Homo sapiens: one gene and its partners. The protein of the gene in region 1 purifies or fractionates together with the protein of each later gene. This does not show direct contact. Each region holds a gene or a part of one and is shown on either strand. Other genes may lie near its edges.

Region 1 (11,521 bases):
AATTGCTGGCTGAGAATAAGAACATTCCAGATATTTTAACATGGCCATTTGAGTCACCAAGGAATGGCAACTGTAAGGCCAGCATGATAATAACACAAGGAATACCACTGGCATAAGGAGAACAGGCCAACAGGGAACATGACAATAATGAAACTGGGAAGATGCAAGCAAAGCCTTGTGATGTTTTAATTCACGATGCACTCCTGACTCTATCCTGTTGTTCTTTGAGTGAAGAAAAACACAAGCCCCCTGCCAAATACCACTGTATCTGGAATACCCTGGAGTGCCAAGTCTGGACATTCCTGCTAATATAAGATCTAGTGAAGAACATTAACTACCCTAGAAGCAGTTCAAAATAAAATTAAATAGAAGACAAGGATGCTTATAAGCAACCCTCTTGCTCGTACTTTTGCATACTGTAGGAGCAGACTAAAGGGAACACAAACTGAACTGAATGAGAATGAATTTTAAACACAATTCCAAGTAAAAATCATTTTGCCCCGTATCTAACTCATTTAAGGGGACTGGCTTCCTCATTCAACTGACATCAAATCAAGCACTCTTCCACAGGTCACACGTTTAATCCTATGTGCATAAAAGATAAACAGTGGCACTGTCACAACTTGCAGAGAACTATGCAAAAGCAATGTCTATCTGACAGCTATGAAATTTGACAGCATGGACGGCCCAGCTTAAAAAGTAGACTAAAGTGTAAAACTATATCTCTAATTAAATTGGATCCTTTTGTATGAAATTCAACAAATGTGCATAGTATAATTTTCCTAAAATAATACTGTCCAAAAGTGAATAGAAGCCATCTCCAAAATGGAAGTAGATGAGGCTTGTGGATGGGCATTCAAACTAATTCATGTCGGACCAGGCTGTTGATTTAGATTAGGAGGGTAGCTCATGTTAGTTGCAACTAATTAAGAACCTTACTTAGGTTCTTAGGTTCTTGAAGTTTCACATTATCTTACTAAACATGGATTATTTTACAGGTACTTTAGATAATGCATCCCAATTTAGTCTTCTACAATCCTTGCGGCAAAACAATGAAAAAGGTCTTGCTATTATTATTAAAGTGTAGTCAATAGAGCTACAGAAAATACACAGGAATTTATTCTGGCTTATTGAGAATTTGTAGGATAAGAGATAATTGATCATGGAGTCAAAATACTGAAACACTGACAATCGGTTTTTGAGGCTCAGAAAATAATACTCCCAAGTATGGCACTTTAGCATAATGAGCACTTTGTTGTTGCTTTTTGTTTTTTTCTGAGACTGTGTCTTGCTCTGTCGCCCAGGCTGGAGTGCAAGGCCACAAACACAGCTCACTGCAGCCTCGACTTCCTGGCCATAAAGAAATTATCTGACCTGTCTTGTCCGATAGCAGATCATAAAACCCTCATTCCAGAATGGGTCCTGCCCTATAACAGAGAGGAAGGAATGCTACACAGAGGTCAAGAATAATTCTGGACAGACAGACCTTGCTGGGTTTCCCACCTCAGTCCATTACTATTAGATCATACTCTTTTTGTTTTTGTTTTGTTTTTTATTTATAGATGGATCACACGCTGTTGCTCAGGCTAGAGCGCAGTGGCACGATCACAGCTAACTGCAGACTCGACCTCCTGGGCTAAAGTGATCCTCCTGCCCTAGCCTCCTGAGTAGCTGGGACTCCAGGCGCATACCACCACACCCAGCTAATTTTTAAATTTTTTGTAGAGACTGGGTCTTGCTATGTTGCCCAAGCTGGTCTCAACCTCCTGGACTCAAGCAATCCTCCCACCTCAGCCTCCCAAAGTGCTGGGATTACAGGCATAAGCCACCATGCCCAGCCAGATCATACCCTTTTTGTCCAATCATATTTCTACACAGCCGTCCATTCTTCATCAAACCTAACCATAAAAATAGACAGTTTTCCCTGAGTTTGGGAGGCTTCACTTCTGAAGACTCCTGTGTCATAAAAAAAACTTTGATTAAATAAAACTGTTATGTTTTTCTCTTGTTAACCTGTCTTTTGTTATGGGAGGGTCAACTATGACCCTTATGGTAGGTGAGGAAAGGTATCACAGAGGTAAGTTAAAAAGAGAACAGATGCTAAATTTAGATCCTGGGGAGTTGGTGGCAGTTGGAAATAAAGAATGTAAAATCGACTTTAGGATGGCAAATTGACTATTTTTCATATGAAAATGATTAAAAATATGAAAGCCTCTATCTTCAGTAAAGTTCTCTTAAGCAGCAAAAAGCCTTAGCATTGCAGCCAGGGAGGCTCACATGGGATGTAGAACAAAGGGCTACATCCCTCCCCAAACTTTACTCTTTCGGAGGAGTAGCAGCACTGCCCTCCTGGGAGTGGCTGAGGGACCCACTCACACATAGCACCACATAAAGCCTCACTTACTACTGGTGCTCTCAACCCCAAAATTTGCAAGGCAAAGTCTGAAAACCTCGGGAAGTTGCTTGATTTTTTTCCTCTTAGATATTAGTTTACAATAAAGTTACATGCTCACACTGACTAGGAGTTGAAAATGGATTACTAAGCTCTTACCCACTGTGTTCTTTCTGCTTCCTGCTTCCTGGCATAGACTGGAAATCACTCACGCTGCTTTACAAACACATGTACCTTATTCTGCATTAAAAGGGCTAATTTAGGCTCCAAAACTGTCAGAATTTACCCTAATTGGGCCTCTTATGCATGTATATGTAACACATTGTCCAAAAGTTTCCCAGAGAGGATAGTACACACTAAAACTCATAATGGAAAGTGAATCAGGCCGGGTGTGGTGGCTCACACCTATAATCCCAGCACTTTGGGAGGCAGAGGTGGATGGATCACCTGAGGTCAGGAGTTCGAGACCAGCCTGGCCAACATGGTGAAACCCTGTCTCTACTAAAAATACAAAAATTAGCTGGGTGTGGTGGCACACATCTGTAATCCTAGCTACTTGGGAGGGTGAGGCAGGAGAATCCCTTGAACCTGGGATGTGGAGTTGCAGTGAGCCGAGATGTTGCCACTGCCCTCCAGCCTGGGTGAAGAGTGAGACTCCGTCAAAAGAAAAAAAAAAAAGAAGAGAAAAGAAAAGAAAAGAGAGAATCAGAGCCAGGCAAGGTGGCTCACGTCTATAATCCCAGCAGCACTTTGAGGCACAGGCGGGCAGATCACCTGAGGTCAGGAGTTGGAGACCAGCCTGGCCAATATGGTGAAACCCTGTCTCTACTAAAAACACAAAAATTAGCTGGGCTTGGGGATGTGTGCCTGTAATCCCAGCTTCTCAAGAGGCTGAGGCACGAGAATAGCTTGAACCTGGGAGGCAGAGATTGTAGTAAGCCGAAATTGTGCCTCTGCACTCCAGCCTGGGTGACAGAGTGAGACTCCGTCTCAAAAAAAAAAAAAAAAAAAGAAAGAAAGAAAGTGAATCAATAAATATATAAGTTTATATAAGGGGACAAAATTCAAAATCCTAGCAAGTGCTCCAAAGCATTTAGCTCTTACTACTCTTTTTGCACTTCTGACATTAGTCTAATTATTTGTCTCCTCAACCTCGAGTTGTTTTTTTCATCTTTGCAACCTCAGCCCCCAACAATTAACATGAGGCATTCAATAGAGTAATAAATTCCAACAAATCTCTGACCTGCTGAGTCTCTGACAGCTCTAGTAGCTTAGCAGTCACAGAAATACCTGAACAGCTTGAAGGTCAAGATTCTGCATTTCCAAACACCACGGTCACCTTAAGATCTAACCTCCACGTCTGGTCCCCTGCAGGAAACAGATATTTGATCTACCCCTTATTCTAAGTTGAAACGTCAGGGACAAATCCACCATCCAAATTAAGGGTTGATCTAATCCACAAACAATCTTTGTGAAGATTTGTCCTTATGATTAAAAAGGAGATCCAGGGTTACAAGAAAAGGATCTGAAATGCTGCTTTCAGATCTCTCCTTTTATAGACACTTGGCAACATTCCTGGAAGCTCAAGTTCCCTTTAAAATGTGTCACGTGTATAACATGTGTGCCTGGACAGAAGTGTGAGGTAAAAGCCCAACCAGAGGCTTAAATACAATAAAGTGATAAGGTCACAGAAAGAAAACCTTGAGTAATCCCCGTTAGAATTATAAATACATTACTAGCTTTTCTCCGAAGTCATTTTCTTTTGGCCTGCATATTCAGGGATACCATTCTGGGAGAATGTCTGGGTATCTTAACAGTGGAAAAACCCTGTCTACCTAAATGTCTAATATTCATCTTCCCTTCCACATTCATTCCATTTCTCCAACTTGGCTGAAAATTCGTGTCAAAGATCCTGAACCCCAATTCCATACAATTTCCTATGTTTTAGACCAGTTTGGCTCTATTTTCACCTTTCAAAGGGGAGATGAGCTTAGAGAACTTTCTCCGATCCCCTGCTGCAATTAGTTCACAGTAACAGTGCCCACCTACCCATTCGCACCAGCCCACGTTGCATCTGTGCCAGGCAGCATGTGCACCCTCCAGGCATCCACCAGCCTGCCAGCTCAGCAGGGCAAAACTGGGCAGACCCTAGTACTGTGCTGTGACTGGCATACCACCAGCCTTCCAGGGCAAACGCCCAGGCAATGCATACTGCCAGGACTTGAGCAATAACAGGGAGCCTAGCTCCAGCCTGTGACCTGGGCCGGGATCAGAGCTCCCCCGAACCCACCCACTAACCACTTAACTCCTTACTTGGCACTGCCCACCTTCTCCCCAGAAACACTACCCCCGACACCAAGCCTGGCAAGCTGGCCACTCAGGGGAAACAACCAGCAACGAGGGTGACGGCAGGTCTCTGGAAAAGGCAGCACACCTGTGCCCTGGAGCCAGAACAGGGTACCACCCCCGACCTCAAACCGGAAGCCCAGGACCCTCGCCCAGTTACTAGTTCTGGCGCCCACTCACCTGCCCATTGCTTGGCCCTCAGCTCCCAGCCGGGCTGGACTCCAAGCTCTCTCCCCGCCCAGCCGGCTGGCGGTTGCGCCCAGGGCTAGACCAGGGCCCACCTGCCCCTCACACAAGCCTCCTCCCCACACGCAGCCCCCTCCTCACCCGCGATTCCCTCTCCCACGCCCCTCACAGCAAACCAAAGCCCTGCTCCCACCATTTGGCTCTCCGTCCTCCGAAAGTCCCGGTTTGCCCCTCTTGCCTACTCGCTCCTCTTCCTCTCTCCCCTACTTCCACCTCCTTTCCCCACGCTCCTCGCCCAATCCCTCTCCCGCCGTCATCCCTGCTCCCCTCCTCCCGGACCGAGCCCTCCCTTTCTCACCTAGGGCCGGGGTCGCAGCTCCACGACCGGCCTGTGGGTCAGGTGGCGCATGCGCGAGCACGGCCCCGCGGCACCATGACAACCTCGTCGTCGCTGGGTGTCTCGCTATCCCCACAGCCTCCCGCCCATTTCTCCTCCCCACGCCTCCGCGACGGCTTTCGCCAGCCACGTGACCCGACTCGGATGACCCGGCACCATGGAGACCGCACGCTGTTCTCCTAGAAGGGCCCTTGGAAATGCGCCCTTTCCCCGCCCCCGCCGGAAGACCAGGCCGGCGCGGGGCGGGGCCAGCGCTCAGAGGCCTACGCTCTGTCCGCGGCCGGCGGGCGTCTCTATGGTTGGTTCCTCAGGCCTCGCCGCCATTTTGTACGGGGGCCTTGAGCAATGAGCGGCTTGGGCAAGGTTTCCAGGCGGGGTTCAGAGGAGCCGGGGGTGGGGCCGGCTTGGAGTCGATACAGAGAGAGGAGCGACTCTCGCACTGTCTTGGTGCGTGCCGCCGTGCCGCCGTGCCGCCGTTGGGGGTGGGGGCCGGGGCGAGTCGTGTCCGGCCTGTGCGCGTGCCGGGAGCGACAGTGCCCGGCGTGGGAGAGCGGGCGTGCGGGCGGCCTCAGCCTGGAGTCGCCGTGACAGGGGTGCCAGACCTCCCCGCGTGCTCCTCGCATTTTCTCTACGCCTGTCGCCCTGTTTGTTTTTTGTTCCCGTCCACCCTCGAGACCGTGCTTCACGAGGTCGAGGCGCGATGAGTTATTTTAAGTAGATGATTTCATGACCTTTGATGTTTGACTGACTTTGTCATGTGCTATGGGTTTTATATGGATGCTGTTTCTTGGTGAAGGTTCACGGTGAACACACGTGTGTAACAGCTAAAGAAAAAAAGGGCTTGGGATCAGTTGACGTTCTGATGCCTTGAATCAGTGAAGGTTACTTAGAAAAAGAATTATTTCGCTAGTGAAAAAGAGGACATGGGCGAGTTTAAAGAGTTGACGGGTCGAGGCAGATTCAAGAGCTGAGCTGTCCAGTAAGATGGTCACTAACGACTGGATAAGTTTCTCAGTTGTACTAGCCACATTTCAGGAGCTCAGTGACCTCTTTATTGGACAGTGCAGATTATATATAGCCCATTCCCAGCATCGCAGAAAGTTATATTGGACAGTGCTGATTTAGATAGTGGGGAATTGTTTTATACTGGTCATCCAGGCCTTTGTAAGTGCTGCTAGGTCGTGGTTAATCACGTTAGTCCTCTAGACACAGGTAATTCTAATGTATTACTGGGTATGGGTGTACTTGTTAGTAGTCAGCTTTACCAACAAGTAATATGCCTACACCATGTAAGGCTTTTGTTTTGGGGACAGAGTGAAAGCAATAGTTAACAATTACCAAGTAATTAGGAGCCGGGCCGCTTTATATGCATCCTTTTATGATTCCTTACAAGTTTATGACGCAGGTGGTATTTTTTTCCAGTTGTGTGGCGTTTTTGCCCATTAGGACTCAACTAAAAACCCATGGCTTTGGCCAGGCACAGTGGCTGACGCCTGTAATCCCAGCACTTTGGGAGGCCGAGGCGGGCGGATCACCTGAGGTCAGGAGTTCAAGATCAGCCTGGGCAACACGGTGAAACCCCGTCTCTACTAAAAATACAAAATTAGCTGGGCGTGGTGGCACATGCCTGTAATCCTCGGGAGGCTGAGGCAGGATAATCGCTTGAACCTGGGAGGCGGAGGATGCGGTGAGCCGAGATCGTGCCATTGCACTCCAGCCTGGGCAACAAATCTCCGTCTCACCAAAACAAACAAACGAAAACCGTGGCTTTTATCCATGAAGCTATTAATATATTGCCTTCTTTTGAAGTGGAATAAAACAATCTGCCTTCAGATAACTTAAAATCTGATATGGGAAATAAGACGCGCTGTAATAAATAATATGAAAGAGAATGGGATAAGTACCAGAAGATTGTGAACAAAACCTAATTAATAAAATAAAGGGAGAAAAAAAAACTTTGTTTTTTTTTGGTTGTTGGAGTAGGAAGAGATCAGTAGGTAAATCTTTAAGGATAGCTAAAAGTTGGATTTGCAGTAATGGAAGTGGGTGAGAGTACGACGCACACAAAGCAAAAAAAGAATCAATGAAATAAGCAAAAGCATGAGGTGTGGTCCTATCTTAGTTTTCCGAAGGGGCAAATAAATAAACTATGAGAGGAATGAATTAATGGCATTTGCAGCAACCTGGATGAGATTGGAGACTTATATTCTAAGTGAAGTAACTAAGGAATAGAAACCCAAACATCGTATGTTCTCACTCATAAGTGGGAGTTAAGCTATGAGGATGTAAAGGCATAAGGATGATACAGTGGACTTTGGGGACTCAAGGGGAAAGGGTGGGAAGGGGGTGAGGGATAAAAGACTACAAATTGGGTGCAGTGTATACTGCTCAGGTGATGGGTTCACCAAAATCTCACAAATCACCGCTTAAGAACTTACTCATATAACCAAAATGCCACCTGTTCCCCAAAAACCTATGGAAATAAAAAATTTAAAAAACAGCAGCATGGATACTAGGCTTAATACCTGGGTAACGAAATCATCTGTACAACAAACCGCCATGACACAAGTTTACCTATGTAACGAATCTGCACACGTATCCCTGAACTTAAATAAAAAACAAAACAAAAATAAAATTCAAAAAAAAAAAGAATAAAAGTCTGCCTTCAAATAACTTACAATCTGATATGGGAAATAAGACATGATGTAATAAGCAATATGAAAGAGAATGGGATAACTACCAAAAGATTCTGAACAAAACAATAACATTAAGGGAGAAAAAAAAAACTTTCTTTTTCGGTTGTTGGAGTAGAAAGAGACCAGCAGGTAAAGCTTTAAAGACAGCTTGAAAGTTGGGTTTGCAATAATGGAAGCAGGTGAGGGGATAATGCATACCAAGCAAAAAAGAATCAGTGAAATATGCGAAAGCATGAGGCCCTCTTAGTCCTCCGAAGGGGCAAATAAACCAAACTTCCTTGACTTTACCTACATCTTGAGCAGACAGCCATGCTGTACCAATAACTTAAGCTTCAGACAAGTATTGTAATGGAACCAAATGAATCAAGACTAATGATAGGCATAATTTTTATGATTATTTTATGCTATGATTCTATATAATTAGATATACAGAATAAGCAATTCATGAAGATTGATAGTGAATATTTTTATGTAGCTAAACCACCGTAAACGTTTTTCTTCCTTTCCTATTAATTTACCAAGATTTGTAAATCAGCATCTATTGATAGTTTACTGGTGCCACGAATTCTTTAACCTTCACTCACTTTACTCTCTTTACTCTTGGTTGGAGTAAGGACCCTATGATGGATGGGGTAAGGACCCTGTGATGGATAGTGGGTTCTGAAGCACCTATTCTTCTTGCTGTAGGGTCCTTTCCAATTCAAGTTCTCCCCAGTACCATTGTGGTCTAGGTTCGGTTTCCTACCACCACAACCAGCAGGGGGAGACATGCGCCCTTAAATCCTACATTTAGGGACTTGCGAATGTTTCTTTTTTTTTCCCATCTACTTCTTGAAATTGTAACCTGCCTATCCGTGTGAGGATTTGAGTTTTTAACCCTGCCTAGGATACCATGAAGAGTCAGCCATGGGCCGAGTTTTATTTGAAGATATTTTAAGTGTATTATGTTATACAATTTAAAATATTTATAAACGATTGTTTAATAATTGTTGAATTTAAAATTAAAGTCATTTAAAAATATTTAAAAGTGGGCCAGGCGCAGTGGCTCACACCTGTAATCCCAGCACTTTGGGAGGCCAAGGCGGGCAGATCACTAGGTCAGGAGTTCAAGACCAGCCTGGCCAACGTGGTGAAACCCCGTCTCTACTGAAAATACAAAAATTAGCTGGGCATGGTGGCATGCGCCTTTAATCCCAGCCACTCAGGGGGCTGAGGCAGGAGAATTGCTTGAATCCAGGAGGCGGAGGCTGCAGTGAGCTGAAATTGTGCCACTGCACTCCAGCCTGGGTGACAGAGCGAGACTCCGTCTCAAAAAAAAAAAAAAAAAAAATTTAGAAGTAATTAAAATAGTGTAATAGGAGACGGTGAAAGTCAGTGATCTAGTTTCAAATTCCAGCTCCTATCAATATCATTTTACAAAAGAAGGGTCATTTTGATATCTTTTCCGTATACACAGAAGGGAAGATAGGACATAACCTCACAATTTAAAAATAGAATAATTTCGGGTGTATGAAAAACTTAAAGCTTTTAGTCTTATTTTTCCAGTTTGGCTGAAGACTGGTGAAAACATCACCACAAGGACTGGCAACAGTTCTTGGACTGGTGTTTGGGAACCATTGATTTCATTTTCCTGAACCTCAGTTTGGCCGTCTGTAAAATAGTTATCCTGTAGTTTGAATCTAGCATCTAGCATTATTGGTGCTGATCACTTCATAAGTCTTTAAATAGGATTTGATGGAGTGGTAAGTGTGTCTCATGGGTCAGTGAGAGAAGAGAGGGGCTCCAGCCTGTGTGGGCAGGGGGATCTACAGGTGCCAGATGGCAGAGGCAGAGGCCAGTGATAGTGGGATGTATGACCTTTTTTCCCTTAGCAGTCAGGTAACAAGGCCCTCACCAGCCAGACTGGTTCTTGGCTCATATTTTAGGGAAGTATTTGGCAGAGCAGGTACACTAAAAGGGTAATATTCAGGTTATGGTCAGGCTGTTCATATACAGGTGAAGGTTTTGATTTTAGAGACAGTGTAAACCCTTCCCACATAGCCCTCTGTCTTCTTGCTGATACTTGAAATTCCTTTAAGGAATTGCTTGACACCAAGATACTCTAGAACCCAAGACAAATTCTTCCATAACAACACGTAGTGCTTATTATTTGCCAGATGCTGTCCTAAGTGATTTGCCTACATTTATTCATTTAATCCTCCCACTGTCTATGAGATGGGTGTAGTATCATTATTTTCTTTTTACAGAGCAGGAGGCTCAGATATGGAGGCCCACGTCACTTGCCAAGGTCACCCGTGGTAAGTGGTAGAGCCAGGATTTGAATTCCAGAGTCCTTGCCACTTTGCTTGACAGCCTCCATGTTAAAGTGGAAATGGGTAATATCTCAGCCTTTCCTGCTATGCTAAGGAGGAGGCCAGTGGGGAGCTAGAAGCACTATGAGGAATAAAAATAAAATCTTAAGCCCTTCAGCTAACTGGAATGACCCCCTCTTGGCCAAGCAGTCCCCAGAGAAACCCTGAAAACTGAATGTCTGGCCGTGATGGGGAGAGAGGTCAGACACGCCTTAGTATGCCCCTTCCTTATTAATCTTTAACCAGAATTATTTCCTAAAGAGTAGGCAGAAACCAGCTTTAGAAAACAAGAAATGGACACCCCATTCCTTTATCCCTATTAGCCAGTCACCTGAGGTAGTGACTGCACTCCCCCACCCTCTTTACAGTTTCAGGGTGACAGCTTGCCAGTTTCACAAAGCATCCCTTCCTAAAAACTGACCACCATTGCTGGACTAGTTTTGGCTGACTCATGGAGGATGTGCAGCGAGGATTTTTGTGTCCTCTGCTTCACCTTTTGATGTCAGAGTAAAACTGCCTTTGCAAAGATTATGACGGTAAGAGAAGTCTAACATGGCTGACTCCATCTTGGTTTTGCCTCATAGGCTGGCTGTCCTCACTCATTCCTGGGTGTAGGCCAAGCTAACCATGGGAGGCATTTAGTTTATAATTTAACTTTGAAGCAAGAATGATAATAGGCCCTCCATGAAACTAACCCCCTCTTTGCTAGAAGGGGGTTACTGAAACCACTTTTGTGAAAGTAATGAAAAGGGACCGAAACCACTTTGGTAAAAGTAATGAAAAACCACAAGATTGGGATTATGGGATGGACCTGAATTCTGCTAAAATATATGTATAATTAAATGATAACAAGCCATGGCTGGGCGTGGTGACTCATGCCTGTAATCCCAGCACTTTGGGAGGCCGAGGTGGGCAGATCACCTGAGGTCGGGAGTTCGAGACCAGCCTGACCAAATGGAGAAACCCTGTCTCTAATAAAAATACAAAAATTAGCCGGGCATGGTGGCGCATGCCTGTGATCCCAGCTACTCAGGAGGCCGAGGCAGGAAAATCACTTGAACCCAGGAGGCGGAGGTTGCGATGAGCTGAGATAGCGCCATTGCACTCCAGCCTGGGCAACAAGAGCGAAACTCAGTTTCAAAAAGAAAATAAA
Region 2 (12,082 bases), on another chromosome or scaffold:
AGTATAGGACATATCACAGGGGCAAAGGTGGAGGCACTTTGGTCAAGAAGGGTAGTAGATGATTCTCTACTTTCCCTGTGATATGCTTGGAAAATATGATAAAGTATATTTCTAATCTACTTAAAAATGTATGAAATGTTGTAAGTAAAACACTTTGAATGTCTTGGAAGTTATTGTTTTATCACAATAGTCTTAACCTTCAATTCTAAATATCCTTTAATGCAAAGCATAGAGTGGAAGAATGATTCTCTTTACATTTCCTTTTCCTTTAGACTTCTTTGTTTTTAATCTCGCTGTAATGGTACCATCTAGAGATTTAAACCATAAGATTAAAGACTAGAGAAATGAAATACAAATAATTTAGCTACATAAATGTCAAATTTCCTATCATGCCAACCATTTAAGTATTTTCAGGTGAGAATGTTAACACTGTATAACTGAACTGATTTTAAGAAGTTTTAAGGAAGTTTAAAATACTTTTTTTTTTTTTTTTTTTTTTTGAGACAGTCTCGCTCTGTCACCCAGGCTGGAGTGCAGTGGAATGATCTCGACTCACTACAACCTCTGCCTCCCAGGTTCAAGTGATTCTCCCACCTCAGCCTCCTGAGCTGGGATTACAGGCACGCACCACCAACGCCGGACTAATTTTTGTATTTTTTAGTAGAGACAGGGTTTCACCATGTTGGCCAGGCTGGTTTCAAACTCCTGACCTCAGGTGATCCACCTGCCATAGCCTCCCAAAGTGCTGGGATTACAGGCGTGAGCCACCGCGCCCAGCCAGGTTTAAAAATATTTTAAGTTAAAAAATTGGGTGGGTAAATGGGATATTATAGCCTAGTGTGATACAATGTAAACAGTATGTGTCAGGGACCAGTAAGTGTGACAGCACCTGAGTAAGAGAAGGAAACAGGGTGCGGCAGGGCATACATAGCTAAGTATTGCATAAATTATCAGTAAATATCTAGAAATACTACACGCTACTACAGAGAACATATCTCACCTGCAGTCCTAGCTCCAATAAGGGCTTACACTGAAGGCTCTTAGTTCCCACTGGCTCCTGCCACTGGGAAGGGGTGAGGCACTGGGCAAGGCAGGGGCTACAGAGGGCTGGGATGCTGAGAACCAGGGGAGCCACTACAGGTAGTAACCTTGCAAAAACCAGGGCAGGAAATCACTGTCTCACAGAACAGGCGGATGTCTCAGGTGCCCTTGCCTCCTGTAGGGCACATGGCACACTCTGAGGTCCCTGAAAATGCTTATGACCATGATGATGCTGACTAATGACCCAGACCCCAAGCACCCGAGTAACTCAGTTGTCAATGCAGAGAAGTGGAGGTCTTCAATTAAATGAGACAACTGAAAACTAGGGCTACCAGAATGAATTGTTATTTGCTCATTTATGATTTCCTGAACATGACACAAATGGAGATTTCAAAAGGATGCTACCTCAATGTTCACAGCACAGAACATCATGCTTTTTAGAACTAGGGAGTCATTTCACAAGGACAAAGTAAACTGAAATCACTGTATTCTCCTACTGATATTTTGGCTTTCCCTATATATTTTAAACGTTAGTTTTTGTTTTTCCTGGAGTCAAACTTTGATGGAGTGGCAGTCCCTCCCCTCCTCCCCTTCTCCTTCCTTCACTCTCTCCTTCCTCCTCCTTTCCCCTCTCCTCCTCTCTTTACTTCACACCTCCTCTCTTGCCTTCTCCCTCCTCTCACTCTTTCTCTCTTTCCTTCTCTATTTTCCTCCCCCTTAAATATGTGAAAAGTAATTAGCCCATCCTGGTTTATCTTGAATAATGCATTTCTGGCTGAAATTTTGCCCAAGGATCCATGCCAGTAACAGGAGCTTAGGCAAAATTGATTGGGACATGACGTTTGATTTCTGACTCACAAAGTAAATTTAAACCACTGTAATTGCAGAACTACATGTAAAAGAATTGGATCTTACACTATCATAGGTGAAAACATGAGCTGGTAAGAAAACGGAAGGTGAGAAAGCTGCCCCACAGAGGCCTCAACCCCAGACCATCTCTGGCAGTGAGTCTTGGAAATGTGCTGCTCCCCAAGACTGCCCTCTTCCTACCCCAAGGATTCTGGAATCATTTATTAGGAGGACACCCAGTCACTTGGCAGCATGCTCAATTTCGGTGTTTACCATCTAAAACTGATGGGGTGGGGAAACCCATAGTTTGGTTTACACTGTTAAAAAAACACAAAACAAAACAAAACAAAACAAAGCAAAACAAAACCTTAGGGCTAGTTTTGTAGATGGCCACCAACTGGCCCAGAGGCCTGTTTTTGTTTTCCCTCTGGGAATAGGGAGAAATAGTAAAAATACATATACATTTTTTCCTCCTAGAGGTTTCGTTGAGCGTTCTATTTTTTACTACTCTTTAGATAAGCAGGTGTCTGGAAGTGAGCACACTTGCTCATTAGCACCACCAAGTCAGATGGGAAAGAAAAGAAAGGAGTATGGGCGACAGCCATGGATTTTAACTCTAGTTCTGTCATGTCCTGGCTGTATAACTGTGAGCCAGCCTCAGTTTTCTCATCTGTGAAATGGAGATACTACCTACCTCACAACGCTGTTGTAAGACTAACAGAAGCACCCCTGTGAAATGTCTGTGACATCTTAGGTACTCATACCTGCGGGCTCTCCCAGCCCGCACAGAAACATTGCTACCCTTAATTAAGAAAATTTAATTTTTATTATTCCCAGCTTTACATTTGGTATGCAAAGAGCAATAAACTATTAATCTAAAATAGTTAGATAAATAGCATTAAACTTTATCTAAAAGCTTGTTGTAAGTTCGTAAGACTTATCTGGGGAATTAGTAGGTGCATTTTCTTTGAATTAGTAGGTGCATTTTCACTTCCTTTCAGTTTGGCCAATTTTAACTCACAAGGGACAACACTTTCTTAATGGACCAGACAGCACTCACCAATTTCACAAAGCAAATTGAAGTTGTAAATTAATAACTACATTAAGTTAATGTTTTATGAAGCACTTACTATTTCCTAAGTATTGGGCTAAGCATTTTATTTGCATTCATATCTCATATCTCATTTACTCCTAACAATCCTATAAGGCAGACTGCATAGTTATCTCCATTTTACAGATGGGGGAACTTAGACTAAGAGATTTCAAATAACCTGGGTGACACAGACAGTAAAGGGCAGAGCTCAGTCACAAGACGGAGCAGAAAGGGTGTCAGAGCTTATAAACACCACACGTGCCATCTTCTATTTTCAACAAAGGGTTTACCTAAGACTACGAATATTCAAATGATCGAATTTCTGAAATCGCCCCATGATGTAAATTCCCACAATTATATTAGAATTTCGAAAGCCACCTCCTCTCATTGCCTTATTTCAGAGAAGAATCTAAAACTCTATCATCTTATTCCAAAAGGAAAGGGGAGAATTAACTGCTTCCCTGAACTTCTCTGCCAGTCTTCCTTCAGTTATTTCTGTTTTCCTGCCTCTCATTTGTCTTAAACAACAGCTATTTTGTATTCATTCCGTAATTGTGAGCAGTGGTCCCAAAGGCCCCGTTGTAAGGAACTACAGAATACTGCCAGTGAATACTAGCGAGAAGGAAAAAGCACCGCAAACTTCCAACTCCATTCACAAAAATACCACAGAAATACATAATCGAACAAGCTAACTCCACTGACGGCTTTCCTGAAGCTTCAGCGGTGAAAGACACGAGCCGCCTGTCGCTTATGGAGGGCTGTCGCGGAGCGGGCTGCGATCCCGGAGTGTGGCCCCGCGTCCACGCGCACCTGCCCACCTGCGCGCTCCACCGCGGGGCAGCGGTTCAAGCCGGGAAGCCGCGAGTATTATCAGCTCAGAGGGGAGGGGTTCACAGGAACCGGGCTAGGTCCGAGGCTGCTGACAACTGGTTTACACAAAAGAAAGAAGAAATATAGGAAGTCCCCGCAGCAGTGCATGCCATGCCGACGCCGACGCGGGCGCCCAGCAGTGGGTGGAGGCGGATGCTCCCAGCGCCGGGTGCAAGGTCCCCCGCTGGCTCCCTTTCGCCAATGCGCCCGGCCCGGGACCAAGACACCGCGTCCTGAGCGCCGGCGGCGACCCCAGCTCCCCTCCCCGCGTCCCGCTCCCCGGGAGGACGCGCCGGGCGCCGCGCCGCACCTGTGCCCCACGGGGCGGCCTTGTCCCACCGCCCCTCGGAGGCGATGCTCCGGCCCGAGAGGACAGGCGCGGGCGCTTCCCTCGGGGCAGCGGGGGCAGACCTGGCGTCGCGGGGACGCCCCCAGCGCGTCAGACGCCGCGCGCCCACCTGGGGCCGTCGCCTCGCCACCGGCAACCTCACCTCCCGCCGCAGCCTCCTCTTCCGCCGCCATCGCAGGAGCCACTTGGTCGGCTCCGCAGCCCCGCGGCTGGCAGCATGGAGGAGCCCCGGGCCCGCCCTGCCCCGGCCCAGGCGGCGGCTCTGGAGCAGGGAAGCGGGGACTGGCGGGCCCTGCCGGGTGCCGCGGCGGCCGCCACCGCAGCCCGTAGGCGCGCACGGGACGCCGCCCCGCAGCCCGGCCGGCAGCAGCTACTGAGCATGCGGACTGGAGCCAGCCGCCCGCCGCTCTGGGCGCCGCGGGGCTTCCCGGCGGGAAAGAGACCCGGGCCAAGGGCGGAGTCGCTGCGGACACCGCCCCGCCGAGCCCTCCCGCGAGCAGCAAAGCACTAAAAGGCCAGTTGAGTCCTTCTAGCAACCACCCTATTGAAAACAGGCTTCCATGCTCATAGTAAGCTTTGTCCCAGCATTCCGAAGATTGCAGTTGTTAGACCCTCGGGGCAAAGGTAAAGGATGAATGAAGATAATTGCACGGTGGGTTAGCGGAGGGCACGGGGCTAGGGTTGGGGAGGAGGGTGCTGGACGAGAGACCCTGCTCTTTTCTGCTTAAGGAAGGGCTTAGCTGCAGAGACGAGAGTGTAGATGACAGAGAGAGGGTCCCGAGGAAGCCGTTTTGCCTCCTGGAACGGTTGGGTAAATCCAGAAACAAGATCTTTTGGGCATCACTTGACAGCCCTACATCCTATGGCCACGTGTCTAGAATACACTGGTTTGCTGCCCTCCCACTGGTCCCTAGACCCATTCCTTGGTAATCTAGTAGAAGTAAGTAAAGGAAAGTCACAGTAGAGAAGACACCAAATCAAACTTTGCAACCAGCCTAAAGGTAATAACTTTCCTACAAGGACTCAATTCCAACGTCTTAACCAGCACCTTATGTGTCCTCAGGGCAGTACTTAGGGCCATTGTGAGAGGCTGGGCAGAGGGTTTGGAAGTGTGTTCCCAAGCAGAAGTGGGCATGACAGGAGAAAACTGTTGCAGGCTTAAGCAGGGGCTAGGACTTTAGAGGTAAGGGAGACGTGCTGAAAACTGTGCTGTCCTCAACACACACCAAGACACATCCCTAATCAAAACCAGTCTTGAAACGTCTCATTCCTAGCTTTGACTTGGAACTCCACCCCAAATTCTACCAACACCAACTTCTCCTGGCAGCTAGAAACAGTAATTCCATACAGGGTTTCCCGAATGTGATCAAACCTTGGCTTTCCAGACAAGTGTACACTATTTTGAGGTGGTTTACCAAGGGGTAACAGGTAGAATTAATTAGACCTGGGCTTTAAGATCTGGGTTAAAATGTAAATACTATTCTATACATGGCCTTGCTTACAATGCATTTTCCCCCTTATCGGCTCAGTGAGCCTCACAACCTCTTTCTTAATTCCTGTCTTAGTAGAGAAACAGAAGTTCAGAGATGTCGAGTATTTTGGCCAGGATCACTCAGCTAGTAGATAGTAGAAGCAAGACCATAAAAGTTAGGTCTCCTTCTTAGGAGTTCCTATTGTGGTGTCCAGTAAGCTTGCCTGTGAATCATTGCAGTCCCCGTTTCTTAGAAACGATGATTCACTTCCACCAAAGCCTGAAAGCAAGAGAAGGGGAATCCAGAATCTAAAATACGAAAGCAGGAAGGGTAATAATGCACAAACAAAGCCGACCTACAGCATTCCATGGGGCACAACCCTTTCATTGCTTAATAGGTATTCCCCTTACTGCTCAGGTTTAAAGCCTGCTTGCTCTCTTTTTTTCTTTATGCTCTGGAGCTTTACTTTCTAAGACATGATTTTTTTGTTTTTTAAAGAGTAGCTATATAACCCATAGGATAAGGCAGAGAGACATATAATGTCTTGCCAGATGGATAGGAAGGTAATCTCTCATTTCCAGTGAGTGGTTTTCTCATATTTTCAACTTGGAAAAAAAAATGTGAGAAAGGTGATTGGATGATTTGTATAATAGAATGCTAGAGAATTTGTGTAATAGAATGCACACAGTTCCTTCTGGTCAGCATGGTTCCCCTGCCAAAAGCCCTGGAGCTGCCTTGCTCTCCAGGAATCATTGCTTGCCTTTCACTTAATTTGTTCATTAATTTTCTTTCATTGCTAAGTACTCAGGCAAGAACAAATATTTTAAAGGTGGAACAAATACTCCTTTGTCCATCTGGAATTAGGAACCACGGCCTCACAAGCTGTAAACTCCTGTCCTTTTAGCATTCTGCTGGGATTGTAACAATATAACTTAGATTAGAGAGGAGTCCCTAAAGCCACTTAGATATTGTATTTGGTCCAAGAACAACAACAACAACAACAACAACAACAAAAAACAACAAGATAGAACCCAAACCCAAAACAACAAAAAACCACACCTGCTTCAGAGTGTAATTAAATTGAAGATACTATTTCCAATGATGCATAACAATAAATAACACAGAAGCCAGGAAGGGGAGAGAAGAGGGGGTGGAAAACAACAAGGGGAAAAGAAGGCTGAACATATATTTATTACCATTGGGAACTGTACACTTAAAATGGTAAAGATGGTAAATAAAAAAAAAACATTACATAGGCCGGGCATGGTGGCTCACGCCTGTAATCTCAGCACTTTGGGAGGCCACGGCAGGCGGATCACGAGGTCAGGATGTGCAGACCGTCCTAGCTCACACGGTGAAACCCCGTCTCTACTAAATATACAAAAAATTAGCTGGGTGTGGTGGCGGGCACCTGTAATCCCAGCTACTCGGGAGGCTGAGGCAGGAGAATTGCTTGAACCCAGGAGGGGGAGGTTGCAATGAGCTGAGATCACGCCACTGCACTCCAGCCTGGGTGACAGAGCAAGACTCCATCTCAAATAAATAAATAAATAAATAGCAACTACCCATTATTGATTTCCTAAGTGACTGGGGAAAATAAATTATTAATGTTTAAAACTACCTTTTCTTCCTACCCTGCCCCCAGCATCCTGTGGAGGGTGAATCCTGGGGAAGATGCTTGGATTTGCTGGGCAGATTGATGAGTGCAGTTTGGAGAAACAAGTAGGCCAACACTCTCCCATATGTTTAGAGAGAGAAGAGGATCTATGGTGGGCTTCTGGTATAGGAAAGATGAGCTTGAGCATGGTCTAAGGGAAGGAAAAGCAGAGAGGTAATTGGAGGACAGAGCATTCCTGAGACAGAGAGGGTGGTAAAGGAGGTGGTGCAGCTGCCTTAAGGAGAGGAAATTTGCTATCTTTTTTTAATTTTAATTTTTTTTTTACATAGAGTCTCGCTCTATCGCCCAGGCTGGAGTGTAGTGTGATTTCGGCTCACTGCAACTCTGCCTCCCTGGGTTCAAGCGATTCTCATGCCTCAGCCTCCTGAGTAGCTATGATTACTGGCATGTGCCACCACACACAGCTAAATTTTTTGTATTTTCAGTAGAGACGGGGTTTCACCATGTTGGTCAGGCTGGTCTCGAACTCATGACCTCATGTGATCTGCCTGCCTTAGCCTCCCAAAGTGCTGGGATTACAGGCGTGAGCCACTGCACCTAGCCAGGAAATTTGAGATATCTTAAAGCGGTATTTAGGGAACTTCATTGTGTAATGCAAACCCTCTTACATTATTTCCCTGGAAAATAACAACTTCAGCAAAAGCTGCATTCATTTTCTCAATGCTTTTGGAGTCGTATTTATGTTTTTATTAAAAGTGAAAACATTTTGAGATTGGCCTTAGGTGGAAAGCAGGGCCACCCACAAAAATAGTCATTTAATTAACTTGTTCACATGTATTTATTGAGCACCTGCTGTGTGCCAGGCACTGTTGTAAGCACTGACTTCTGTATTTTACCTACTGTGCATCAGTTACTTTATATATATATATTCTCACAAAAACCAATGAGCAGGTATTAGTTTCTTTTTCTGTTAGCTCAGTGGTTCCCAAAATTCAATGTACATGAGAATGTGCACAATTTTAGACCCACCCCCAGAGACTGATTTAGTAGGTTTGGGGTGAATCACACTAAGTCCTTATTTCAAATGTGCTTCCTAGCTGATTTTGAAAGTTGCTCTGAGTACTCTCATCTAGGAAATACTGCTTTAACTTATCAAAAATCAATTTTCTTAAGCTGGGTTGTTGCAGTATGGTATGTACACCGGGGAAGCAGCGGGGAGAGAAGCAGTATTTCTTAGGGACAGGAATAGCAATATACTAAAATTCTGAGCAAACTGCAAGGAAGGACAAAACTTAGGACAAGAATGAGGGAATAGTTGTGCACACATCTACTTTTATGTGGAGTTGCTTACACTTTTTCCCTTAGGGATTATGCGTTTGTATGTGTGTATAAGCATCAATAACTCAACTGATGTTTACTTTTACAGTTTTTAAACACTCTTAAAGCAGTTATGGTATCCCAAGTCTTCCTCAGTCCTCTCGGTATTATATACAATCATACAAGAGGGTTCTCCAAGTTCTGTTCCTGATTTTTTTACCCAAGAAGACAAAAAGGCTGGATGCGGTGGCTCATGCCTGCAATCCCAGCACTTTGGGAGGCCAAGCGAGCACATCACTGAGGTCAGGAGTTTGAGACCAGCCTGGCCAACATGGTGAAGCCCCGTCTCTACTAAAGATACAAAAATTAGCCAGGCACGGTGGCAGGAACCTAATCACAGCTAGTCGGGAGGCCAAGGCAGAATTGCTTAAACCTGGGAGGTGGAGGTAGCAGTGAGCCAAGACCACGCCATTGCACTCCAGCCTGGGCGACAGAGTGAGACTCCGTCTCAAAAAAAAAAAAAAAAGATATTAGGCTGAGTATTGACAGTTTACTTTTCCTACCATGAGTTTCTCCCTTTTGAAGAGACTTACAAGTCTTCCTGTGTTTAGGAGTTTGATCATGAATGTTAAGAGGTAAAGTAATTCAGATAACTTGATGGTAGTTTAGCAATCTCACCTGAGAAATGTTTAATTTTCATTAGTCAGAGATCATCTTCCCAATTTTGACAAAGCAATTGAGCTAATAGTAATTAGACCACCCCACCCTTGGCTGGATCTTGGGAGGAAATAAGTTGATCAGGGTCCCCATTTCTGATATGAGCTCTAGAGGAGATGGACCAATAGATTATCTACTCTGATGAATAGGATCTGGGAGGAATGGAAAAAGCACTAAAAAGACCAAGGCCTGTTTGTATGATGTCCATCTTCCTGTATGATGTCCAGAGACCCAATCCTGTTCTGTGAAAAATGTTAATGGACCAACCTTCAGTTCCGATGTAGGCAGCAGATCCAACACCACAATCTAGGTGCCGTGGCTTCAGGTAAGAATCATTGCAATAAACCTGTGTGGCATCATCTTGATTACCTTGTAGTTTGTCGAAAGCACCCTAATTTGGTTCTGGTATCATGTGGCCATGTTCTTTAGGTTAGTCTCATCCCAGTAGAAGGGACGTGATGCTTGATTAGTTTTAAATCAATTGCCCATCAGGTACTGGTTTAGGACTACATGGATGGCACAGTCATGGACAATAAGATGTGAGGGTTACTTTGCTTAGAATGCTTCTGGAAAAGATTTTCTTTGCTCTTAAAAAGTGGAGATGCAAGGCCGGGCATGGTGGCTCATGCCTATAATCCCAGCATTTTGGGAGGCCGAGGTGGGCAGATCACCTGGAGTCAGGAGTTTGAGACCAGCCTGGCCAACATGGTGAAACCCTGTCTCTACTAAAAAAAAAAAAATTAAAAAAAAAAAAACAAAACTAAAATTAGCTGGGCGTGATGGCGCACACCTGTAGTCCCAGCTACTTGGGAGGCTGAGGCAGGAGAATCGCTTGAACCCAGGAGGCGAAGGTTGCAGTGAGCCGAGATCGCGCCATTGCACTCCGGCCTGGGCCGCAGAGTGAGACTCTGTTGTTTTTTCTTTTAAAGAAAAAAAAAAAAAGTGGAAATGCAGAAGTATTTCTCTTTTTAAGGCCTTACCTGTTGTGTGAGGATTTGATGCTTAGAGTCTCTGTAGTCATCTAGCTTCTCTGAGAAAACAAGACCAAGGACAAAGCCAACACCCTTGTCATGACAAAGTAGAGAAATGGAAAACAGGGTCTTGCTATGGTTGCCCAGGCTGGCTTCAAGGGATCCTCCTGCCTCAGCCTCCTGAGTAGCTGGGACTACAGGTGCATGCTCTTGGATTCCTTGATGTTTGTGAGATGCTAAAATGACTACTCTGGAAGCTATCTTGTGTCTTATTGTTACATAAGATACTCGCTTTCCTTATCATTGAAGCCATTTTTACTTGTGTTTTCTGTCACTTGTGGTCAAAAGTATGCAAAGTAATAACTCTGGCCCTATCACTCCATGTATACTCCTGAGATCCTAGAAGCATATGAGTTGTCAATGAAGTTAATTTGTCAATGGAGTTCACTCTATGATTTGGAGGAGTAGGGAACACTGGACTTGGGTTCAAGGGCAACTTATTACTTGTGTTTTAGGCAAGTCACAATCACTCAGCCTCATGGTCATCTATAAAATGATGGTAATTATGTAATTACAGAGTAGTTGTAAAAAACAAGTGAAGGCATTTTGTGTACAAATATAAGTTCTTTGTATCACTAGATGTTTTTGAAAGATGAATTTAGAGTCTCCGAGTTTGCTGTAATGCCCAAATTTTAACATTCAGTGTTTTCAATGTTGTGTCTGACAGTGGCATTATTGAAATGATGTATGTCAGGGAACAGCTGGAGAACAATGAGGCTGAATGGGATTCCCACGGGCTTCCTCAAGGCTCAGTGGAAAAAGTCATGATGATTGTCAGTGTCTTCCACAGCACGGGAGGTAGTGGTACCTGGGCCACATATTCCTATGCTATTTTGAGGCATTTTCAATTTAGTGCTTGCTAATTGGTTTTGACCAAGTTGGATAGTTGTATATAAGCTATGCATCCAATAAGTACCTGAAAGTACAGCACAGTTCGTGTAGCCTATATGTTTTTAGCTACAGATTTGAATGGAGATTTTAAATACAAACTTCAAATATTTTGTTCTTGATGTGATCTTCAAGTGTAAAAGTTAGACAGTAATTTACATTAACTAAATAGTCTTTCTTGAGTTTTGGGTAACACCTATCTCAAAACTCAAAAATAAAACCAAAAAACTTCATCAACAGAAATTTTGTAAACATAGTTTTTATTCTTATCTTACCTTCAATGAAATTTTGTCCTCATGCCACCAAAACATTTTTGAAACTCAGTAACTGAACACCAAACTCAGTAGCCTCATGATTACTTTTCTAGACAATTGCTGAATTATATTGCTTTAAAAAAATAGCTGAGATATATTTTTATTACTTTATTCCTTTTTAAAGCAGCAATATCCCCTCACATTTTTTTCATAAAAATCTAAAATATCTCTAGTAGTCCCAAGTGTCTCATATTTATATTTGTTCTAAGCGTTTGTTTCATTAAGATTTTTCAGAAATAAGTGCACTTCTAAAGAGAAAGTAAATTTAAATAAACACAACAGGAAAATAATCATGGGTTGTAGCAAAACAGTTATTTTGAATGTTCTGAATTTTAACAATTCAAAGGAGAATGTGTTTGGTAGCCAGGGACCTCTATGGACTAAATTCTCAATTCATTTATTTGTAGATCAGCAAAAGACAGATAGCTGCTGCTCCTGTCAGTAAAGACTGACTGATTGATTGTCTAAGGTTTTATACAATAAAACACCAAAAATAAATGTACTTAAAATATTTTAAATTTAG
Region 3 (8,278 bases), on another chromosome or scaffold:
GTTTTATATATATGTAACCCACTTTGTGCTCTCAATTGATTTTTATTTATTTATTTATTTATTTTGAGATGAAGTCTCACTCTGTCACCCAGGTTGGAGTGCAGTGGTGTGATCTCAGCTCACTGCAGACTTCGCCTCCCAGGTTCAAGCAATTCTCCTGCCTCAGCCTCCCAAGTAGCTGGGACTACAGGCATGTGCTACCACGCCTGGCTAATTTTTGTATTTTTAATAGAGACGGGGTTTCACCATATTGGGCAAGCTGGTCTCGAACTCCTGACCTCAGGTGATCCACCCGCCTCGGCCTCTCAAAGTGCTGGGATTACAGGCGTGAGCCACCATGCCTGGCCTCAGTTGGTATTAACTGGGGGAGGGAAAGGCAGGTGGATAATGTTTCCCTGTTTGCTGATTGGGTGCTTGACATGATTAGTAGTGAATTCAGCTTGCTTTCTAAGTGAGTAACTAGCAAAGTCTTTCTATTTAGCTAGCTGCTAAATGGAAAATGGGTGAGTTTTGTTAAAGTAATAATGCAGGAAGCTGGGGAAAGTCCTATACCGGTTGTTAAGAGCAGATATAGGCTGAGTGCAATGGCTCATGCTTGTAATCCCAATATTTTGGGAGGCTCATGCGGGAGGATTGCTTGACCCCAGGAGTTTGAGGCTGTAGTGAGCTGTGATGGAGTCACTGCACTCTAGCCTGGGCAACAGAGTGAGACCCTGTCTCCCAAAAAAAAAAAAAAAAGAAAGAAAACCTTTTTTCCTTAGGTCCATCTAGTGTTCTCTTGAGGAGTGAATGGAAAAAGTGGGAAAGAAATAGCCCACTTTCCGTATCTTCACCCTGACTTCCTTATATAATGCTTGGCCTCTGCAAAATACTGTTGGGGAAAAATGGTTTGTTCTTTTCTTACCAAATAGTAACTCTGCTGATAATTTCTCTTCCCAACAAAGATGCCATTTCTCACAATATTCGAACAAATAAACTTGAGCAGATGCCCAGTACTAGTGCCCCACAGTAGAAATATTCTCATAGAGATGACAGCTTCTGCTGAGTTCAGTGGCTTGTACCTGTAGTCCCAGCTACTCCAAAGGCTGTGGCAAGAGGATCACTTGAACCCAGGAGTTCAAGGCTGCGGAGATTCAAGGCTGCTGTGATCACACCATCATGCTCCAGGCTGGGCAACAGAGTGAGACCCTGTCTCTTAAAAGAGAGATGGCGACCGGGCACGGTGGTTCATGCCTGTAATCCCAGCACTTTGGGAGGCCGAGGTGGGCTGATCACCTGAGGTCAGGAGTTCGAGACCAGACTGGCCAACATGGTGAAAACCTGTCTCTACTAAAAATACAAAAAAATTAGCTGGGCATGGTGGCAGGCGCCTGTAATCCCAGCTACTTGGGAGGCTGAGGCAGGAGAATCCTTGAACCTGGGTGGAGGCTGCAGTGAGCGGAGATTTCGCCGTTGCACTCCGTCCTGGGCAAGAAGAGCAAAGTTCCGTCTCAAAAAAAAAAAAAGAGATGGCAACTTCTGTCTTGATCTCTACTGTAGGAGAAAAACATGTGGAACCCTTCTTTCTGCTTTATCTTGATATGTCTCAGGAACCCTGTGCCTAATGAAGTTTATTAATAAAGTCAGGCTCAGAATAGAGACGTTTTCCAGTGCCAGTGCCATACTTTTTGTCATGGTGCCCCCACTTTGGTGAGCAGGGGAGCATAAAATTCATGGGATAGGGACTTTGTTTAATGCCATAGAATCCAGCACTTAAAATAATGTCTGGCACCTTCATAGGCACTCAGTATTTGTTGAATGAGTGTGAGTGAGTGAAAGGGAGGAAATGACAAAGTTCTGGCTGCGAAGCAAAGCTCATTGGTGTCTTGAGACTCAAAGAATAGACTTTTCTAATATAATCCTTTGATTATTATTTCCTGTCTCAAGATAAACTGACTGTTGGCAAGAGGAAACGAAATGAAGATGATGAGGTTCCAGTGGGGGTGGAGATGGCAGAGAATACTGACAATCCACTAAGATGCCCAGTCCGACTTTATGAGTTTTACCTGTCAAAATGGTAATCTTTCTCTGAACTGAATGTAGTGCACTCAGAAGGCAGTTAACATATTTTGGATTTCAGATGCTTGAACATCAGAAAAGTAGCTTGCCCGTGGCTTTAGACAAGGATTTACCATGAATTTTTTCCCCATTGTCATATCTATGTGGATTTTGAACCACAAAACAAATTACCTTGTCTTCATAATTATTTTATGAAAATGTCTTCAAAAGCAAGAATCACTGCTATTGTTTGATCTTTACAACTGTTGTACAACCTTTATGTGATACCTAATCTGTAGTTATTTTGTTATTTGTATAGAAAAGAAATTTTGTTTTGCTAAAGCTATAATAGAAAAACAATTTTTAAGGAATTGAAATTTTCTAAGTAGTCCTTTTCTTAGAGGAACTTTATGATTTTAGAGTTGTAACACTTTTTTTTCTGAAAGAAATGTAATAGCTTCATTTGCCCTTTGATAATGTGTATTGAGTGCCCTTGGAGTTCATTCCAGGATATTGGGCACTTCCAATATGTGGTGCTTGGCCATAGTGTCACATGTGAGTTGACTTTTTTGTTGCTCTTAATAATGTTTGAAGTACTAAAGTTTATGATTTACACTTTGTCTTATATTAACTTTATACTCACTTCCAATCCATTGTGATTTCAGTTGATTCCTGGGAGGAAATATTCCTGTAAACTATTTATCTCTGTGGGTACCTTGCTTTCCCCATTGTGAGTCACAGTGGAGAAAGGTTGAGAGCCATATTAGGTTGGTGCAAAAATAATTGCAGTTTTTGCCCTTACTTTTAATTACTTTTAATGGCAAAAACCTCAGTTTACTTAAGAATAGTACATATTTCCTATACTCTCTGATTTCTAATTTTCTTTTTTCTCTTTTTTTTTTTCCCCTGTGGATAGTTCTGAAAGTGTGAAGCAAAGGAATGATGTGTTTTACCTTCAACCTGAGCGCTCCTGTGTCCCGAATAGCCCCATGTGGTACTCCACATTCCCGATAGACCCTGGAACCCTGGACACCATGTTAACACGTATTCTCATGGTGAGGGAGGTACATGAAGAACTTGCCAAAGCCAAATCTGAAGACTCTGATGTTGAATTATCAGATTAAAACGGAAGTGAGGTTCTTATTTTCATACATATTGGTATGCACCAAACTGTGAATGCATCCAGCTGTTGGAAAATGATGTATAAGTCTAAGTCCTCTTGACTTGACCATAAGATCATGGAAAACAGATGACTTGTGAACCCCACAGTGTGGATGTGCAAATGAAAATTGAAGGAAAGAATATGAACTGAGAAATGTTCTTTGGCAGTGATATAGTTCTTAGACATCTTCAGAATGACTAATTTCTCCGAGTGGTGCATAATCTTATTTTGTTTGGGAGTAACAAATCGTGGAATATTTTTAAGGAAAACTGTTGTATAAAACTTTACCATAGTAACCTTAGACCTTAGAGAGGTAGCTTTGGAGTGAAACTTTGGCTGCAATAGGCTACTTTGGCAAGCCCTCCGTAAAAGTCAGAGGAGAGATCAGTACAGAGCTAAGAGTGACATCAAATGAGGACTGTGGGACCCAGATTTGAAGACCCAATAAAAATACTCAACTTTTTAAAAAAGATAGTGAAGTGGTCTTGATTGATTTTGATTTTCACTGCCAAGCCAATCATGTGAAGGACAGAAGCTTTTGCCATGGGCCCCTCACATCAGGGAAAATGACCTTCACTGCTGTTAACAGTAATGTGTCCCTTTCATTTTCTGGATCAAGCCTTCTCAGCGGTGGGTCTGGATGTGGGTAAACTAAGGTAAAGGGGATGATATTCCACAAACTAATTATGCACACAGAAAATCTGTGGAGCCTATCAGACCCCAAGTGTCTTGAAATGTTTGTAGAAACCCACTAAAATGCCCCTTCTCTGGGTGTGGGCCCTTATTGCAGCTGTCTCACAGCCTGAGCTGTGGTACAGAGAAATGGGGGTTCTCCTTTTATTTTCATTTTTTTTCCCCAATGGCAGCTTTTCTCCCGTTGTTTTACCTTCCTATTTCCCAAACAGTTCCTCTTATTTTGTCTTTTGCACCAGTTTCTGGAGGCCCTTGTCATTTCAAAAAGGATAGTCTCTTTTCTTACTCTGGCAAACCTGTGAGTGATTCCACAAAGATACAGTATTACTTAGCTATCTGAATTATGATAGAAAAGGTCCTAGTTAGGTTCCTATATAAAGCATTTGGAAGATGACCTTGTTGCCCTTGAAACTTGAAAATAGGGATTCTGGGGTGAGGATACAAAGACATTGTCTTGCATATCCATAAGCAGGTCTTAGAGCATTATTCCAAACTCTAGCTGTTTCAGTAGTTCTATGAGGATTGCAAGTCATAGGTGTGTGTGGCATATCAGTCCATCTCCCTCATCTCCATTCTCAGTTTCTTCCCCACAAAATTTGGAATCAAAGCTTTTATGACGTTTGCCAATTGCAGAACTTCTTCAGCTAAGGTTAATTTGACGCTATGATAAAACTGAGAGATGTCAAAAAGCCTCTTAGAAATTTTAATCTTGAAAGACTTTTCAGGGTATCTCATTTTTTAGGTGGGGGTGGCAGGTGTATTTCTTTTTTAACAAATAAAAGGCATTTAAGTAAAACTAAAATGAAAAAAGTAGGCCTTCTGACATTGTGTACTTGGTGGTTCTGTCCCTCTGCCTGTAACAAATCTCATTTTTGTTACCAAGAACTGTATGAAAGAAGTAAATCCACCCCGATTCTGTATGATTAATTCCATCTGTGTTTGTCATTTCTGACTGGAAAACTTCTTACTCCATACCTTGTTCGATATGGAGGACAAATAATTGGATTGTCTGATAAGTCTGCCAATAAACTATCCAGAAATAGCAAGTGTAATAGTCCCCACTATACGAATTTTATGGTTTGTATAAACACTAACATTTTCCCCTTCTGTAGTTGTATGAAAAAACAAATATTGTTAGCATAGTAGATAAATTGTTATGAAATACCAGAAAAAAAAATCTGTATCTTTTACTGAGAACACCCAATACCCAGATAAATGACTGTATCAGGATTTCATTTGCATGTTAGTCCACAGAGTTGCCCAGAACCCTAAATTTATTCATAAGAGAAAATATTGATTAATTATTGGTCATTCCTCATAAGTGTAGCTGTTGATGTGTGCGTCTGATTATTGCTTTTTTAATTTTATGAAAATTGTGTAAAATTACATTTTTTTTCCAGGGGAGAAAAAAACATCAAACAAAAACATCTAAATCATCCTTTTTGTTCTTTTTCAGTTTTTAACCACTTTTAGGTTTTCCCCTTACAGAAACCACAGAAATATTCCCTTAGAATAAAATAGTATATTTGTATTTGATGGGTGAGTTCTTCTTCTTTACGTCTTAAAAGAATTTGAAATCTCTTTTTCTGATTGACCTTATTGGTATGACCCAGCAATTAGTAAAATTACAAAGAAAGAGAGCAGTTTCCGAGAAAGAAATTTTTTTTATGTAGTCCAGTCAACATATTTTTTCATTGCAAGTTCTTTTATTTCCTTTTTTCCATCAAAAGACTTGTTCCCATTTTTAGCTAATTTACTGACTATATTCAAAGTCCCAACAGGTAGAAATATCAGAGATCATTTATACATATCATTTCAGGCAAACTTTTTTGAGATTTACAAAGCCTACATCAGTTCAACTTTAATGAAATTGTAAGACTAGAATAAAGGATATGTTCATTCTTAAGTATAAATACATGTTTAAAACAGGAATGTAAGACTAAATAGCATTTTCCTTCGACTTCAGAGTTGTCTTGGTATTATGCAGCTGTACTTTCAAATTCCGTATCGACTTTCTACCTACCTGCCTTGTGGCAATCCTAAATTTATAAAACAGGTTTTCCCAAAAGATCTAATGTAAAATGAATTTCTATTAATGAATTCAGAATTTAATTTTCCAAAGAAGTCTCCTAGGGTATTGAGTTGAAGTTTTAGGAAAGAAGCAATCATACCCTGAACTCCTCTAGACTAGCACTTGTCTGTTACACTGTGCTATCATCATTGAAGAGAATAGTGATTGAGAGGCAATGCTATGTAGTGGAGAGATCATAGGCGTCGAAGCCTAGTGTTTCTACTTACTGGTTGTATAACTTTAGGTAAATTACTTAACCTCAGGCCAGGCACGGTGGCTCACACTTGTAATCCCAGCACTTTGGGAGGTCGAGGCAGGAGGATCATGAGGTCAGGAGATCGAGACCATCCTAGCTAACATGGTGAAACCCTGTCTCTACTAAAAATACAAAAGTTAGCCGGGCGTGGTGGCGGGCGCCTGTAGTCCCAGCTACTCGGGAGGCTGAGGCAGGAGAATGGCGTGAACCCGGGAGGCGGAGCTTACAGTGAGCCGAGATCGTGCCACTGCACTCCAGCCTGGGCAACAGAGCGAGACTCCGTCTCAAAAAAATAAATAAAAAAATAAGTAAATAAAAATTAACCTCTCTGTGCCTCAGTTTTGTTATCTATAAAGTGGGTATAACTCCCTTATTAAGTTGTGCCTGGCACATGGTAGGCTTTCAAATGTCAGATATTTTTTATTACATGCAAATTTCCTGGCCTGTACTAACACATTAAATAAATGTTAATTCCCACACTACAGTCTGAATTTTTACTAAGTATAGCACTTTGGCTTCTGCAAAACATAATACTCTATTTATATAACCAATTCTACATATTTGAATCAAACAAAATTACAAATTCTTCACTTGTGCTTATGTGCATATCAATAGTAATCAACATCACAAGAATCCATTGATATTTTCACTATATTGAAAAATGGGGCTGGGCACGATGGCTCGTGCCTGTGATCCCAGCACTTCGGGAGGCCAAGATGGACAGATCACTTGAGGTCAGGAGCTCGAGACCAGCCTGGCCAACATGGTGAAACCCCATCTCTACTAAAAGTACAAAAATTAGCTGGGCGTGGTGGCAGGTGCCTATAATCCCAGCTGCTTCAGAGGCTGATGCAGGAAAATCACCTGAACCTGGGAGGCGGAGGTTGCAGTGAGCCGAGATCAGGCCACTACACTGTCCAGCCAGGGCAACAGAGTAAGACTGTCTCAAAAAAAAAGAAAAAAGAAAGAAATGGGCATGTATATCAGTATATATAGGAACAGCATATGATAGAGTTTATTAGTTTTTTTCTTTATATTTCTTTTTGTTTGTTTTGAGACACAGTCTCACTGTTGCTCAGGCTGGAGTGCAGCGGTGCGATCTTGGCTCACTACAACTTCCGCCTCCTGGGTTCTAGTGATTCTTCTGCCTCAGCCTCCTAAGTAGCTGGGATTACAGGTGTATGCCACCACACCTGGCTAATTTTTGTATTTTTAGTAGAGACGGGGTTTTGCCATGTTGGCCAGGCTGTTCTCAAACTCCTGACCTCAAGTGATCTGCCCACCTCAGCCTCCCAAGTGTTGGGATTACAGGTGTGAACCACCACGCCTGGCTAATATTTCTTTTTTTCTTTGAGATGGAGTCTCGCTCTGTTGCCTAGGCTGGAGTGCAGTGGCTCGATCTTGGTTCACTGCAACCTCTGCCTCCTGGGTTCAAGTGATTCTCCTGCCTCAGCCTCCTGAGTAGCTGGGACTACAGGTGCACGCCACCATGCCTGGCTAATTTTTGTATTTGATGGGGTTTCACTATGTTGGGCAGGCTGGTCTCGAACTCCTGACCTCAGGTGATCTGCTGCCTGCCTTGGCCTCCCAAAGTGCTGGGATTACAGGCATGAGCCACTACATCTGGCCTATTTATATTTCTTTGCATATGAATGCCAGGTCATAAATTTATTTTTTAATTGGGAGAAAAACCTTAAATCTATGAAACTTCTTTTACTTGGTAGGTTATATATGTCATCAGTTTAGGAACAAGACAACGGTACAACAGCAATCTCCCCACGCTTCACTTCATTAACAGAACTGCTCCTTCCCCAAAAGTTTTAGCTAGGCAGTGGCTCCCTTGGTAAAAAAGTGTATTTTCCAGGCTAACTTGTAGTTAGGAGTGACCATGGGACGAAGTTTTGACCAATGGCATGGAAGCAGATGTGAGTTTACATCTCCCAGGCTACACTCCTAAAAGGAAAATGCATGCTCCTCTCTTGTCTTCCCTTTTTCCTCTGATCTGGAGCATGAACGTGGTCATGGCAAACCAGTTTTGTCCATGTGGGAAAGGGCAGCA

Evidence for each region.
Region 2: the proteins of CIPC (region 1) and BMAL2 purify together in Homo sapiens (affinity purification with mass spectrometry; 2 studies listed by BioGRID and IntAct, with this or other methods). This does not show direct contact.
Region 3: the proteins of CIPC (region 1) and ZMYM4 purify together in Homo sapiens (affinity purification with mass spectrometry; 3 studies listed by BioGRID and IntAct, with this or other methods). This does not show direct contact.

The regions. Positions count from the first base shown.
Region 1 is NC_000014.9:77,092,123-77,103,643, reverse strand, and holds the start of CIPC (CLOCK-interacting pacemaker), read right to left. Parts: upstream 5,387-11,521; 5' UTR 5,283-5,386; intron 1-5,282.
Region 2 is NC_000012.12:27,325,366-27,337,447, reverse strand, and holds the start of BMAL2 (basic helix-loop-helix ARNT-like protein 2), read right to left. Parts: upstream 4,613-12,082; 5' UTR 4,376-4,612; coding exon 4,345-4,375; coding exon of another isoform or gene 4,312-4,344; intron 1-4,311. UniProt on the Homo sapiens protein: Transcriptional activator which forms a core component of the circadian clock.
Region 3 is NC_000001.11:35,416,517-35,424,794, forward strand, and holds the end of ZMYM4 (zinc finger MYM-type protein 4), read left to right. Parts: intron 1-1,926; coding exon 1,927-2,056; intron 2,057-2,953; coding exon 2,954-3,161; 3' UTR 3,162-5,542; downstream 5,543-8,278. UniProt on the Homo sapiens protein: Plays a role in the regulation of cell morphology and cytoskeletal organization.